2 separate regions of the Homo sapiens genome follow, and region 2 is linked to region 1. A link means that fine-mapping ties the variant in region 1 to the expression of a gene that starts in the linked region. Tissue or cell type: transverse colon. Region 1 holds a variant in brackets; the other region holds the start of a gene. All regions are shown on one strand. Distances are from middle to middle.

Region 1 (8,182 bases):
CAGCTCAACTGGGCTTCAGGTCTACCAGGACCCCTGTCACCTGCCTGGGACTTGGTGCTGGCTGCCACTGGGCACCTCAGTTCCCTCCACGTGCCTCCCTCTCCCTGCACCCGCATCATTCAGGAAGCTAGCCTGGATGTCCCACAGCTGGTCTCCAAGAGGGTGAGAGGCTAGCTACAGGGTTCTGAAGTCCTGGGCCGGGAAGTCACTCACACAGCATCTCTTCACCATATTCAGTTGGTCAGCTTGCATCGGAGGACAGCCCAGACTCACAGGCTGAGGCAAGAGACACCACTTCTGGATGGGAGAAATGTGCACATGGGAAGGGGAAGGACTGTTGGTGGCCAGCTTTGAACACGATATGGGTCAAAGCAAGAAACCAGCTCACACATTCCAATAGGCTAGGGTGGCCTGGGGAGGTATTGCAGGGGTGGGCGTGGAGGTCCTCACCAGGACAGTCCTGAGCACTGTCTGGGTGTGCAGACCTGGGCTCCAGCTGCCTACTGGCACAGTAGCCATGACCCATTAGGTGATACCCCGGGCCTTGGTTCTGTCTCCTGTGAAATATGGGATTGAGCCCAGTGGGGTGGTCAGACTTGCTTCCATTAATGATGCGTTTTTGTCTAATTAAATCTGGGCTTGTAGAACCCAGATATGTGCAAAACTGATCAATGTGGGGCTGGTCCTCAAAGAGCAGGGTTGGGGTCTCCTACCCCACAGTCAGAAGTAACTTTTCCTCCCCTCCCTCCCATCTCAGCACCACTGTTTACCACTTGGCCTCGGGTCATGGTCATGATGCATGCACCATTGAGGCTCCTTTGTTCATAAGTGACACGCCAGCAGCCTCCTATGGGGGCACACCTGGAGCCTTCTCTTTTCTCACTAACAAGCTTTCCCAATCCCCGCCTGCCTTGGAGCCCCGCCAAATGCAAGCGATGCTGCTATCGCCCTTGCTGTAGCAAGTCCTAAGTAAACAGCCTCTGCTTGTTCTCACTTGGGTGGTCTTTGCTGATTTCCTCAAGTCCTGAGATGCGTAAGTCTCAGGTTCTGTGCTCACTAAGTGCTGGTGGCGAATGGCATTTCCTGCAATGTACATTGGGTTTGGAAGCTAGCAGGAGATGAGGTTCAGGCCCCACAGCTGTCCTGCATGTCTGAGCCCGAGAGAACCTGGTGCTGGTGACTTCTTTGAGCTAGAGTCAAGCTATACCTGAAGCAGTTAGACTCCTGGACTTTGCAGGGTGGAGCCAGTAAGACTCTCATCTGCTTAAGCTACTCTGAACTGGGCTCTCTGTCACTTTCTCTGGTTGGTTCTGAGTTGGCCAAAAAATAGGGACTCTCTCAATCATTGACCAAGTCCTAAGCAATCTGGGCCAGTGCTGCAGAGGGTGTGGTTTAAGTGCCTGAGCTGATTGTGCACAGGCCGTGGGTCGGAGTTCCATCATCAGGGCTGGCCTGGCTGTGGTCCATTTGCTATTCAGTCTCTGGGACCCACCACAGAGTTCAGTAGTCCTCAAGGAACACCCGTAGAATTGCAACGAGAGTAGAGCCCCCTCCTCCAACCCCTTCCTGCCTCACCCGTGCCCCCTGACAAACTCTCCAACTCCCAGTCTGCCTTCAGGGGCTCCAGCCACCTGCCCTTCGGGGACCAGCACCCTTCTCTTCCAAGAGTCTCCGCTCAGGGCCACCTCCCTCACCCCTGCCACAGCCTTTGTCCTCAGCCTTCACCTCCCTGGATAACACTTGCTTTGGTCCCACAGGATCCCCTGCCGTGGTCTGTCTGCCCACTGAATGGTAACCACACGGGCTACGATGAGGAGTGTGAGAAGGCGTCCTCCACACAGTACTTCTGGTACAGGAAAACCCTCAATATCTCGCCGTCCCTCCAGGAGAACGGGGGTGTGCAGTGGGAGCCGGCGCTGTGCCTCCTCCTGGCCTGGCTGGTGGTGTACCTGTGCATCCTGCGTGGCACCGAGTCCACTGGCAAGGTGGGACAGTGAGGCACAGAAGCCCGGTGCTCCTGGTGGGTGGGAGGGTGCACCAAGGGGCAGCTGCCTCTGTCTCCAACCCTAGGCAATGCCAAGGGAGTGCCCTCTGCAGTGGAAAGGCAGCAGCTATGTTAGGGCAGAGGGCACAGATGGTGTTGCTGGGACAAGTCACCTACTAGATGACTATAGAGAGGGCCAGAGATGGTTAAAGTTGCAACCCTAAATCTCAAAACAAGGACTTTCTTAGAAAAAAAAAGTTTTTCTGTAGCAGTCAGCCCCAAATCCATACCACCCAGACAACCAGACAGTGAGTTTGCTTTTCTTTAAGATTGTATGTATCCTCGAGACACCCTAGCCACTGGCTCTCCAACTCAGCTGCACATTGGTATTTTCTGGAGAGTTTTCAAAAATCTCATGCCTTAGCCCCGCCCCCCAAAATTCTGCAGTAACCAGTCTGGGGTGTGTCCTGAGCACTGGGTGGGGAGGCAGGGGAGGTTTAAAAGCTCGCCAGGTGATTCTAATTTGCAGCTGAGTTTGAGACCCTTTGTTCTAAGCTGCTTCCAATCACCCTCCAGAGCTGTCGGGCTTGATCTCCATAATCCTTTCTTGGTGCATCCCAAGGCTCACACTTTCACTGGGGCTGACATGTTCCTTCATCTCTAGTCTGCTCCACGTAGAAGGTTTGCTTTCAGTGTTCCCATCACCCGCCACCTGCCTGAAGCTTCAGCAGATGTCTCGGAGCCTAGCACACCCTGTCTCATTCACTGTCACTTCTCACAGTAGACCCACCACGGCTTGAGCACCCACATTGTGTCATTCTGGCAACAGCCTTTCATGGTAGATTTCATGATCCCAGTTACCTGAAGCTTAGAGAGGTAAATTGACCTGCCCAAGGGCACAGCTAGTGAGGGCAAAGCCCAGCCTCACCCCAAGACTTCCCATTGTCTTGGTTTGGTAGCCACATAGCTCTCTCTATGCCTTAATGATGTCATCAATTCCAACTGTCACCTGCTGAGAGTCCTAGGAGCCCACCTGTCCTCACCCTCTGACTACCTGAGTTGTCTCCTCCAGCCACACCCCACCCCCCATGTATTTCTTGAGGCATTAGACCAGAGCTACCCATGGTATTCCAGGGCCCATGGGACAACTCCAGTATCATGCCTGGTAGGGCATTTTATTTTGGTTTCTAAGAGCCCCTGATGACCAGCCTCTTAGCCCCCAAAGTCCCCTGTGCCATGGCTGAGGAAAGGGACGAGTGAGCACAGGTGCTCTTTCCCCGAGAGAGCTTAGAACCTGCAGCAGCCCACTCAGTCCCATCGTAGAGCCTGGCCATACTGTCATGCTCATAAAAAATGTTTTTGTAATTTATGTTTGCCAGATTATTATGATCATGATCCAAGAGATCAGAGGGCAACATCTGCAGAGGTAGAGATTAGAGACCATTCCTTTTCCCAATCACTTTGAAATGTGTTGCATAAGACCATGTCATGCCATAAAAACTTATTTATTCTTATCATCTATTTCCTCTGCTTCAGCTACACCCTTCTCCCTGGGAAAAGTACCCCAACAGCTCTATGTAAATAGAGCTAATCTTGTCACAGACCATGTGCCATTTCCTGGCATCCTCTGTTGGAATCGACTTTGTTTCCTGCCAGAATCTCTGCAGAGTGGTCAGAATTGGTTTCTTCCAATAGATTAGGCTGGATCACGTGTCCAGCAATTCTGCCCACTTAGGGACTCCATGAGCCTCCAGGAAACTTGCTCACCTTGGGGGAAGGAGGGAAATTCTCGGGGCTGGCCCTAAGGGCCTGCTTAGTGCCCATTGTGATGGATGTTGGTCACGAGTGAGTGCTCTGTCTTTTCATCTCTCTTACCTGGTTTCTTATAATCTTGGGTGGATTTATTACTCTTCTCAAGTTACAACAACCTCAGCTAAGAAGCAGTGATAAAAGACACACCCCACATTCCACCTGCCGTCCCCTGGGTGACAGCGTACAGAGTGCCATTCTGGTGGCCTTGGAAATGGATGAGAAGATGATGCCACACCTCAATAGGAAGGGAGGGCCAAGTGTAATTCAAGCCCACCTGAACATAGGCCACCAGCCATATTTCTCACAGAGAGACTCAAACTTTAAGGGAACTCTTACACAAAAGACAATCTTGCAAAATATTTATTTCCTTTACAAATGAGGCTCTGGTACACATATGAGTTGATTTACAGAAAAAAATCCATTCCTGGATAGGCACACGTGCACTTGAAGGTCTGTATTCTATGGCTTTGTAACAGTTAGAATCACCCAGAGCATGACAGGTGACTACTAAAGCTACCATGAACACCAAAGATATTAACAAAACATCATTGAACTTACGATGCATGTCGGTGGAGAAAGAAGATCTGGTTGACAAAAATGTCCATTCAGGTGTAATGTTAAAGCCTAAGGAAGTAAACCCTTTCTGGAGGGTTGCCATAAAAATCAGATCTGAATTTCCTATTGTGTTTATTA[T/C]GGGGACATTGTCCTCTACGCTACACCTCGCTGCTTTCCTGTATGAGCACTCGTGACCAATCTGCTCTCAGGCCCCAGTCCTGGGGAAATCTGTCCTCCTCCAAGCTGCAGATTTTTTTTTCCTTTTAATTGTGTTCCTGCTTTGTGTGTAGGCCACCAGGAAGCTCAGAGCTGAATCTGGCTCAGAAACTGGGTAGAGACTTATGCACAGATTCTATGGGCTGCTTTTTCCTGTGGGCTCATTACTGGATTGCCCATATATTTTTTTCATGCTGATTTCTTTAGCAATTTTGAAATGTTAACGTGACTGATGTGTTTTTGTGGGTAACCTCAAATCCTTTCCAGAATAAGGTCAGGTTGAAGGGAGGGTGGAAGGCAGAGGCTCGGTACCTGTTTGCCTCTTCTCTACTGAATAAGAAATGTCGTGCTGGTCACAGCTGTGAGCAACCACATCCCACCAGCCCACTTCCCCAGCCCTAACCCAGAGCCTGTGTGTGACCAAGAATCTCCATGCCTTTTCCAGCTGTCAGCAGCTGGGCGGTGCAGCCTGAATACCCCAGATGTGGTGTTCCATGGGGCATGGGTCTGTCCTGTGGACCCCACTGCTCCGGGAGGCCAACTCTGCCCTCTGATGCCCGCAGGTGGTGTATTTCACGGCGTCACTGCCCTATTGCGTGCTCATCATCTACCTCATCAGGGGCCTCACGCTCCACGGAGCCACCAATGGCCTCATGTACATGTTCACTCCCAAGGTACGGGCTGAAGCGGAAGGGCCCTACGGGCACCCCTCACTTATCCTGCCACCTTCCAGGATGGGTGGGAAGAGGGAAAGGTGGAGAGTGGGCCAACGCTGTACCTACGGAAGCTGATGTGAGCCCACCAGGGTGTGGCAGGAGTGTGGAGTACCTGCAGTCACTGGATCACCTCCTCAGCCAGGTCATCCCCACTCCCTGTTAATTCTGGAGCATTAAGTCTTTCTTTCAGCTTCTCCTCTTCATCCTCACTGTCCCCCAACTGCTGCACCCCTGCCACTGCCTCACCTCAAGCCCCTTTCAGACTGTGGACCAAGCTTTTTGCCATGAGCACCACTCTGGTCATCTTGCTTGCCTGCTTACATGGTTCCACGCACCCGTTTCCCTACAGAGTTTCCCAACCCACCCATTCTCCATGCACCCCACACCCAGGGTTCATCCATGGAGGGTGCACTCTTGCCTTTGGGATGGGGCAAGTTCTTCATTTGGCAAATGCAGTCCCTAGAAATAAAATGACTGTGTCATCCTTCCCCTTCCCCATTCCAGACGCCACCGATGTCAGTGCCGAGAGTCAACCCACACCTAGACCTCCCCTGCCAGGCCACACCCCCTCCATCTCTGAATGCCCAGACCTGTGCAGTAACTGCCTATGAATCAGGGCCCCATTTGTGTTTTAATTATTTTACCCTGCAGTATTCCATTGCACACCTCCGCACTGGCGTATAGTGGTGAGCATAGCTGCTTCTGGTTACACACCTCCTATGGCTGAGGTGCTATGGAGGATACGTAGCACCTTATGTCCTCCACATAGCACCTGTATTCTCCACAGCACCTTAGCCCTGGGAGGTGTGCAGCTTGAGGTGTGTGTTTCATCTGCCAGGGAGTGGATGGGGCCAGGAGAGCTGGTCTCCAGCCCTAGGGGTGCCCCTGATGGCTGCGTGCTGTAGGTGAGCTCCTTCCCCTCTCTGGGCTACTCTCCTGTTGCGGGTCTGAGCATTTGGGATTCCACCCAGGGATCATCAGCCCTGTCCCTGCTGGCCTTCCAGATAGAGCAGCTGGCCAACCCCAAGGCCTGGATCAATGCAGCCACCCAGATCTTCTTCTCACTTGGCCTGGGCTTCGGCAGCCTGATCGCCTTCGCCAGCTACAATGAGCCATCCAACAACTGCCAGAAGCACGCCATCATCGTGTCCCTCATCAACAGCTTCACCTCCATATTTGCCAGCATTGTCACCTTCTCCATCTATGGCTTCAAGGCCACCTTCAATTATGAAAACTGCTTGAAGAAGTAAGCCTGGGCTGTCCCACCGAGTCCCAGGCCTCCCTGAGCTCTGAGCTGAAGGGTCGCCTGGGCAAGGGCTGGGGCAAAGTGCACCAGTTTTGGAGTCCTCAATCCAGGGCTCACATTTGGACTCCCTACACCACCACCAGTTGCTGGAGGGCCTGGGGCATGTCAACATCTGCCTGGCAGGGATGAGGGCACGTTAGCGTGTTGTGAGCACTTAGCATAATAGGACATACAATGATCAAATTTTGTTTCTTCTACCCCATCTCCCCCACCTCAGAAGTAACCAAGAAGCCTCTAGCTGAGCCACAGAGATTGCAGGATTCACTTTCTGTGGCCCCTTGCCCAAAATACAAAGACATCATCCAGGAGGTATGCTGTCCAGTTGGGTAGTCACTAGCCACAAGTGGCTATTTACAAATTTACATTTAAATCAATGCAACTTAATTCACATTTAAATAACTTAATTCATATTTCAGTACATTCCCTTGTTACTTTCAATCAGTTGCTCAGTGTCCACCATTAAGTGCTCAGTTGCCATATGTGGCCAGTGAGTACCAAATTGGACAGCCCAGATAGAGAGCATTTTCATCAGCACAGAAACTTCTGCTGGACTATGTTGGTCCAGAGGTTAAAATAGCCTAGCTGTGTGAGTTTGGTGCCTGTTGTCATCACTGTTCATATCTGAGGCTTCTTCAGTGCCATTCAAAATTACCCTGCCCTTTAAAAGATCACCAAGCAACAGACTCCCTTTCCTCACCTAATCAGAAAAGAAGAGGCTGACGGGAGGCTTTGGTGACAGCTGCCTTTCTGATCAGTGAAGGTCGATCCGATGGTCTGCTCTGCAGGGTGAGTCTGCTGCTGACCAACACTTTTGACCTTGAAGATGGCTTTTTGACAGCCAGCAACCTGGAGCAGGTGAAGGGCTACCTCGCATCTGCCTACCCAAGCAAATACAGCGAGATGTTCCCGCAAATCAAAAACTGCAGCTTGGAATCGGAGCTAGACACGGTAAGATGCCCAGGCAAGGTCAAGGACTGGCTTCTCTCCACACACTCATGGGAACCTTGGTGAGCTGCTGACTTGGGAGATAGGCGAGGTCTGTAAAAATAAAGAAGGATCCTGAATTACTTTTCCTGCAACTCCAAGGGGAAGAGAGGCTTTAACACCACTCTCTTGAGGGCTGTTCGAGAATGCTAGTTATAATAAACTTCCTGGCGGACCTCTCTGTCCTTTCTCTCTTTTTCTTTTGTCTTTCTAAGCTTTTAAAATACAGAAAAGTAGAGAGAATAACAAACACCCATATATACCACTCAGAAAGATCAATTGTAAACATTTTGTCATTTTGGGCTCAGATTTTTTTATATAAAAGAACATTTCAGAGATGAAGTTAAAAAGTCCCCCTTTTTTTCCCTACTCACCAAAGGCAAGAACCTTCATTTTTATATTTCTATTACCCATCTATGTATTCTTAAATAATATCATTGTTTTGTTGGCAGTTTTTGTTTTATTTTTTCTTTTTTCAACAAGCCTTTTGCACTCCTATGTCAGCAGTTTTTAAATGGGCATAAATGGTCTGGAAAGATACTTCTCTCATTCAGCATTTTAATTTTGAGATCTGTCCATAATAATACATGTGGAACCTCATTTGTTCAT
Region 2 (8,182 bases), 23 kb before region 1:
GGTGACTGGGAGCCACTGAGGGTGGTTAAGTAACAATGGCATCACTAGGATGAGCAAATTATTGAAAGTGGCATGAACTTCATGGTCGGCAGGGTAATCAGGAACCCTGGCACGGGCCCAGGAGCCCACACCCATACAACTGAGTCAGGGCCCTCCCCAGTGTCTCCACCCCTTCCGGAAATCAGATAACTAAGGCATGCTAGCCTTCTATCCTGCAGGTAAGTCTGTCCTGAGTGACATGGGGCACAGTGAGACCGGTCCACAGGCAGTGTCTTGCATACTAGCAGTGGAGGCCCCAAGGAGCACTCAGAGTGGGGCTCAGCTAAGCTGAAAACCCCATTGCCATGGGGCACCAGACACCACTGAGCTGAACTCACTCCCCTTGTCCCTGCCATGCAGAAGTGATTTCCCTAGCCCCAATCCCCCTGCTGAATGCCAAAGCCAGCTGCCACACACTCTTGAGAGCCAACTGGTAAATTTTCTAGAATTCTGTGGGCTGGTTGTTAAACATGGCCACTAAGAATTAAACTACATAAGCTAGCAATTGAATAAGTTATTTAAAACAGAGGTAATAAATACACAAAACTTGGCACTTCCTAATTATTGACTGTACTATTATCTATGCCTGTTGGATCTGGATAGTGGAGACTCAGTACAATGGTGTGCTACTGCATGTCTCCACGTTTAGTGACATCACTTTGGTAGCTTAGAATCAGTCATAGTAAGGCCAGGTGAGGTGGCTCATGCCTGTAATCCCAGCACTTTGGGAGGCCAAGGCGGGTGGATCACGTGAGGTCAGGAGTTCAAGACCAGGCTGGCCAACATGGTGAAACCCCATCTCTACCAAAAATACAAAAATTAGCCGGGCGTGGTGGTGGGCACCTGTAATCTCAGCTACTCAGGAGGCCGAGGCAGGAGAATTGCTTGAACACGGGAGGCGGAGGTTGCAGTGAGCCAAGATTGTGACACTGCACTCCAGCCTGGGCATTGCAGCAAAACACTGTCAAAAAAAAAAAAAAAAAAAAAAAAAGTCATAGTAAAAGTGTTTACACCACAGAAATTGGCAAATGTGACAAATCAGAGCTTTTTCTGCAGAGAGCCAGTGGTTACATACCTGCCAGCCTACCACTCCTCTCCACCCTCTGTCTTGCTGGCTCTCTGCGGAAGCCCCCCAACCCTTCCAGGCCTGTCCTCTCCACTCTATGAGTCCCAGCAGCACAACTGGCCTTGTCAGATGAGAGCTGTCACATAGGCTTCAGAAAGTCATGGGGACCCTACCAGGAGCCCTGATTATCTGCCCCATTGCATTTACTTACTGCTCTTTGGGGTTATCTGGGTGATTCTTCGTGCTGCCCAAAGCTACCACACAGGGTCTCACATACTGGATGGGCTCCCAGGGAGTATAGCAGTATGAATGGAAGGAGGTGCTGGCCTGATCTCAGAGGTAGGGAATTAAAGAGAGGCCTTGCCTCCATCAAACCAACAAGGTCCCAGCAGCCTCATGGTCCAGGTGAGGCATCTCTCCAAAGTGCCCAGTTCCTGAAGGTCACTGCATAGCCAGGTACCCTCTAGGAATAACTCATATATGAGAACAAGAACATGCAAGCAGATAGCTGGAGGCAGCAACAAGCCTTCTGCCTAAACAATGCAAAACCACTTTAAAAAGGCAGCCCCGTCGAATTGGAGCCCAGGGAACCAGCACAAGAAAATGCTGGCACTCCGTCTGCTGCCATTGCTGTGAGGAGTCCTTTGTAGGGGGAGGGCGGGTAGCCCTATCTATGGATGGCTGAGACTCATTTTGCCTGAGTCTTATATATTCTCAGGAATATCTTCACAGCCTTGGAGTTGATAAAGGAGTGCTTTCTTAAACAGGACATAAGAAAAACCACCAAAGGAGGACACTAAAGGAAAAGATTGGGAAATTGGACTTTGTTAAAGTTAAAAATATCTCTTCATTAGAAGACACCACTGACAGAATAAAAGGCAACACAGACTGAGAAAAGCAATTTGTAATACACTAAACTGGCATAGGACCCAAATCCAGAATACATAAAGAACTACAAATCGGTAGGAAAAAATCAGACAACCCAATTAAAAACTGACAAAAAATTTGAACAGGCACTTCATGAAAAAAGATACCTAGATGGCCCAATTAGCCTATGGAATGGTATGCAGCCTTACTGGTCATGAGGGAAGTTAAAATAAGGCACAATGGGCCAGGCGTGGTGGCTCACGCCTGTAATCCCAGTACTTTGGGAGGCTGAGGCGGGCAGATCACAAGGTCAGGAGATTGAGACCATCCTGGCTAACACGGTGAAACCCCGTCTCTAATAAAAATACAAAAACAAAATTAGCTGGGCATAGTGATGGGTGCCTGTAGTCCCAGCTACTCGGGAGGCTGAGGCAGGAGAATGGCGCGAACCCCAGAGGTGGCACTTGCAGTGAGCCGAGATCGCGCCACTGTGCTCCAGCCTGGGCGACACAGTGAGACGCCGTCTCAAAAAAAAAAAAAAAGGCACAATGAACTATCACTATACACCTACAAGACTGGGCAGACCTTTAGAAATAGAATGACAAGTGTTAGGATGCAAAGCAAAAGCAACTGAAACCCAAAGGGAGTGTCAGCTTGTACTACCACACTCTGGAAAACAGTCTGACAATATCTGCTAAAGCCAAACACACCTATCCTAAGGCCAAGAAGTTCCCAGCAGTGAGTGCATTCATCTACGGAAGAACGTGCACTAGAATGTGCATTGCAGCCCTATTCATGACAGCCCCAAACTGGAGACAACACAGACATCTGTCAGTAGTAGACTGGAGCATACTCACACCACCGACAAGTATACTGCAGTGAGAGAGAATGACCCACAGCTACACAACACACTAGAACATGAATGAACCCCACAAACAACGGAAAGCAAATGAAGCCAGGCACAGAAAAAGTACATCCCATTTAATTCCATTTTCATCAAGGTCAAAACTAACCCATGGGGTTAGACACCAGGATGGTAGGTTCCTTTGGGGAGGAGGCAATGGGTAGGAAAAAACATTTATCTAGAATCTGAAGTTTAAAAAAATTAAAGTAGTTTCTCCTGCTGTGCTGCCTTTTTTTTCTGCTTTGCTTTTTCGAGGTAGGAAGTTCCAGGACAGGTAATATGTCTGAGGAAGCCTCCACCTCCCTCACCCTACTCACCCTTCTCCTCTGGGACCAGACAGGCAGGAACTCCAGGGAAAGCCCAACAAGGAGCTGTCCTAGAGCACTGATTTCATTTTGGCTTCAAGTAAGATTTTCACTAGCAACTCTGCTTTTCATCTCTTTTAAATTTTATTATTATTATTTAGCATTTTCTTATCTGTTACAATGTATTAGGCACTGTTCAAAGCGTGGCATTAGTATTAATATGTTACCCATTCATTCATTCAGCCTGCTGGAGACTTGGTAATGGCCTCTTTATTGAGAACTTACTCTGTGCCAGGTAGTAAGCTAAGTTCCCAATTAATCCTCACATGAGCTCTTCCTTGCCAGGCAGGAGAGAGGGGAAGATATCTGTTAGCATTACAGAGGAGTACACAGAGACTCAGAGAAGTCAAGTGCCTTGTCCAAGGTCACACAGCTAAGTCAGTAGCAGAGTTGGTATACAAACCCAGATTCCACATTACTGCAAAGCACCAAGCTCTGTCTTATCTAGTGACCACCCTCAAGCAAATCACGTTGTAAGACTGGCAGAAATACGAGGTTTCTTAGTTCCCTACCCTGGCCTAATGAATCAAAATTTCTGGCCCCTAGGCTGGCCTGAGCAGTAGAGTCCCCCACAGCAGTTCAAAACCTGATTCCGTCCCCGGACCCAGTAGGCACGCAGGGCCAAGCTGTTGGGTGGACGGAGGGGACGGGACTGCCGGGAAGGTCCCTCACTTCTTTCTGGCCCCTGGCAAATGTTATGTTCTCTCCTCTGAGAAGCCCTCCCTAACCATCCCTGGCCACCCCCCGCAACTGCTTACCCCTTTACTTTGCCTTAGGTGTCTTCCTCGCGTCTCTCAGTCTTATACGTGGGCTAGGTTGAACCATATGACATTGTCCTTTCTATAAATTAAAAAATGGTTGAAAATGGGGCATTTCATGCAGTCCAATTCAAGTGTTTCCCTCTACCAGAATGTCAGCTCCAAGACGGAGCTGGGAAGTGGTTCACAGCCGTGTCCCCAGACAACGCCTGGCACACAGTAGGCGCTCGATAAATGACAGGTGAGTGGCCGAGGGAAGGCGCCCACTTCGAGGAGTTCCGCAGCCTGAAGAAAGGCCCCGCCGAGCCGGAGGACCCCAGGGGACTCCGCCCTGTCCTCTGCAATCTCGGGTGCCTTCCCGGCCGCGACGATCGGGCGGGGTGGGGCTCGCCGTCATCCATTTACCAGCCTCGCCTCTCGGACGGGCGCGCCGTTAATGAGATTAGCAATTTAAAAACCAGCTAGCTGCGTCGGCGGCGGAGGCGCGGGGCCACCCCCAAGCCGAGCCGGGGTGGGACGGCGCGCCTGGCGACCGCGCACTGAGACTGCCGTGCCGGACCCCCGAGCCGGAGCCGAGCGCGCCGAGGCCGGGGCCATGGAGAAAGCGCGGCCGCTGTGGGCCAACTCGCTACAGTTCGTGTTCGCCTGCATCTCGTACGCCGTGGGCCTGGGCAACGTGTGGCGATTCCCGTACCTGTGCCAGATGTACGGCGGAGGTGAGTGCCCACCGCGCCCCGGCCCCAGCCCAACTCTGTGCGCGTCCCCGCCGTGTGTGCGAGCCGGGGTTAGACCCAAGTTACAGAACGGCACACTGAGGCCGGGAAAGCGAGCGTGATTTGTCCGAAGTTACAGACCCGGGAGTGTTCCCAGGACACCTCGTTCCGGAGCCGGAGCTCTCTCCCAAGCCGCCCTCCCAAGCCCTCGGGAACCCCTCGCCCCATCCCGGGGGCGGCCAAGCCCCCAACCCTCACCCTTGTTGGCCAGGCTGCGGCTCTGAGAGCGCAGGGGACGCGGTCTCCTTCTTCGAGAGAAGTGTCAATGGTCTGACGTCTTAGTGAGTAAACCTTACGTTTAGGTGTAAAAAGTGAGTAGGAAATTGTCTTATTCAACAGAAACTCGTTATACAACTTTCAGATCCGAAACTTAAATCAACGGTTTGAAACTCAGGTTAAGAGAATCTTGAGCCATTTCTTTAAATTTTTTATAAGGAGATTGGTTTGAGTTTGGAACGACAGAAAGCAGGAAATGCAAATCATTCTGTTTTGTTTTGTTTTTCTTAAATAAATGTTTCCTCCGAAGCATCATGCACGCTCCGGGGACAGCCAGCCAGCCACGCGCTCTTACCGCACTCCCCTAGCGTTGCGGAAAGCTGGGAACACCTTCTACACATGTCTATAACCTCGTGAAGCCCAAGTACCTTTTTGGAAGGCAATGTGGCAAGAGGGATTTAAGTCTCAGCATCTAAAACACTTTTTTTCTCGGTTGTCTCGTTTCTAGAATTGTATCTAAAGGAAATTGTCAGAGTTCTGACAGAGGTAGAAGGATGGTCACCATCATTTAATAAGAGCAAAACATTGGCAACTTCCTAAGCCCTCAAATAAAGGGGATTGGTTCAGTAAATTATAGAGCATCCATTCAAGGTTGCTCTTCGCAGCCTTTAAGGCGGCATTTTCAAAAAAAAAATTGTATTTTCTCGTATCCTGTATTAAGTGGAGGGAGGAGAAATCAGATTCAAAGCTATATAAAATGGATTTGACATTTTAAAACAATTACTTAAAAATATGCAGAGAAAAGAATGGGGAAAAGACATCAAATTGTTAACAAAATTTCTGGGTGATTTTTGTTTACCTTGTCGTGTGTGTGTGTTTTTGTGTGTGTATGTGTGTGTTTGTGTATTAGGACTTCTATAATTAGCATGTTTTTTTCACCATAAAAGATCATGGAAGATGTTAGACCAAAGTATTTACGAAAATGAACCCATTTGAGAAGACCAAGAGCTAAACACTGCTCCCTCCTCCCCTTACCCCAAATCAACAAAAGGTTAATTCATAGAGTTTTTAAAACAGTGCATTCTTAATTTCCTGATTCCTTTTTAAAATTTGAAGTGCATAAATACACCATAATGATGTGAAGGGCATATGTTGCCATATGCTCTAACAGCATTACCATGTGCTCTAACAGCTCTATAACTGACTCTTAAAAAGAATTATTTGTCAGAATGAGATTTCCACATCATTCTGTGCTCAGTAGACCTACCCATGATACCTTTATCCTGGGTACATGTTTCCCAGTCATCAGTCCAGGTGAGCCTCACTGTCACATGACTACTTAATTCCTTGTTTATAATACCACCATCACCTGAATAGTCTGCAGAGGGATGCATGTGGGGCTGATAGTTCTGGAGTTGAATATGTATCAAGGGGTTGCTAGGGAAACCTCAAGACCCTCAGGTTCCAAGAAAAAGAAACAAGAAGTAATCCTGTGCCTGGTGCAGAGGATGCTTCGGCTGGATGGGTGGATAGATAGATGAGTGGAAGCCGGACGGAGCATGGATTGGTGGCTGGGTGTATGCATGGATTAGTGGGTGCACAGACAAAAGGAGGGTGTGGGTCTGGTGGATGGCACCCTGTCAGCCACATGTCTACAGAATAAAGACCGAACAGTCCACTTGGCACCGTAGGCACTTGACCACCTAACTTGACCACTTGTCCAATATTTCCACCTCATTTCCTGCCACACAGCTTCAAACCTCCTCCTGCCTTCCAAACACTTCCATGAGCACCTCCTTCTGTGCCTCAACCCTTCACACAAGATATTTCCTCCACCTGAGAGGCTGTTGTTGCTGGGAGAACTCCCACCATTCCCTCCAGGTGGGACCAAATATTGCTTTCTCTCCGTTGTGCTCTCTGACTCTCCTCACTACTTCACAGGCCACATAAGCACTTGGTCAGAAGAACTGCACATTGTTCTTCAGTTTCTCTGTCTCCGCCCGGCCCAACCTCTGTGATGTGATGGAGTCACAGGAGCCATCCAATAAATATTTGTTGAGTGAATGAGCAAGGTATTAGGAAAAGCCACAGAATAAATGACGCTAGAGGATGCTAGAGGCTTTCCCAAGCCTTTCACTGCACAGTAAAGTCACCTTTAAGAAGTGATTTGTGTTGCCCCAAACCCAGGCAGTTTACAACCCATCCCTTACCGGAAGGTAAAAATCAGCCACATTATGAAAGGCTGCAGAGGGGTGTATAACTTCCTTGTAAGCAGAGCTGCAAATACCCCCAGCAAACAAAGAATTTGTTTATAAACCACAGAGCCAGGCTGTGCCAAAATACTTCCCAGAATAAGACGGATTAGGGATCTGTGCCCCTCTCCATGGGACTCTGCCCGTGACTGGAGAGGCTTGTTTCCTTCCTGCTCCCCAGGCCAGGCCCGGCCCGGCATGAGGAATGTTAATTCTGAAGATTACATTCCAGGTACCAATCATCTCTGTACAGCCCTGGCTGCCTGCTCTAGAAAAATAAAAAATAAAAGGCAGCTCAAAGAACTTCACAAAATCTCTTTTTGAAAAAGTCAGCAGGTCTTGGGCAACCATGTCAAAATCTAAGGCAGTAGTTGTTCAGGAAGAAATCGGGGATGCAAGTGTGTGTGCACTAAGGTGTAAAAAGCAAATACTGCACTAACTATTTTACATAAACCTGTGCACGGAAGAAACATGGAGAGATGAGAACAGTTGTGTGACTGGTGGAAATATGGATTTTTTTCTCTTAAATTTTCTCTCTGCAATATTGAGGGGGAAATCAGAGGACACCTGACTATGCAGTGGGACAGTATCACTCTCAGACTGGAATGCTCCACATCCCTGCAAAGCCCTTGCTGTCTGGGACAGGAAGCCAGCTCTTTCAGCTGCCTGTACTGCTTACCCCAAATTGCTTAGAGAATTGCATGTCAAACTGTAGCCTACCTGAGCATCTTCATAAACTGCAGGTTGCTAGACCCCACTTCCAGGGATTCTGATCCAGACGCCTGTGGGGGAGGACAGGATTCTTCATTTCTAGAAAGCTCCCTAGCAAGGCTAAGGCTTGGTCCATGGACCACACTTCAGGGAAGGGTCAGGGTTGCTTCTGTGGCCCCAGGCCCGGCAGTAGGGTCCCAGTAAATGTTTAACAACTGGCTCTTGGTGGAA

What was found. PIP is the estimated chance that this variant, and not a neighbour inherited with it, causes the effect.
Region 2: SLC6A20 starts here. The variant in region 1 is fine-mapped to the expression of SLC6A20 in transverse colon (GTEx, PIP above 0.99).

Annotation. Positions count from the first base shown.
Region 1 is chr3:45,769,564-45,777,745 of GRCh38, reverse strand. SLC6A20 (solute carrier family 6 member 20) reads left to right here. Exons shown (of 11, transcript NM_020208.4): 4 at 1,758-1,985; 5 at 5,131-5,241; 6 at 6,288-6,529; 7 at 7,375-7,537. Among named protein-coding and RNA genes, the nearest start is that of SLC6A20, 23 kb to the left of the region's middle. The variant T/C (reference allele first, on the strand shown) is at 4,490.
Region 2 is chr3:45,792,832-45,801,013 of GRCh38, reverse strand. SLC6A20 (solute carrier family 6 member 20) reads left to right here and starts at 4,478. Exons shown (of 11, transcript NM_020208.4): 1 at 4,478-4,715. The coding sequence starts at 4,595. It overlaps LOC107986082 (a long non-coding RNA gene), which reads right to left and starts at 5,115. Exons shown (of 3, transcript XR_001740680.2): 1 at 4,971-5,115; 2 at 4,000-4,081.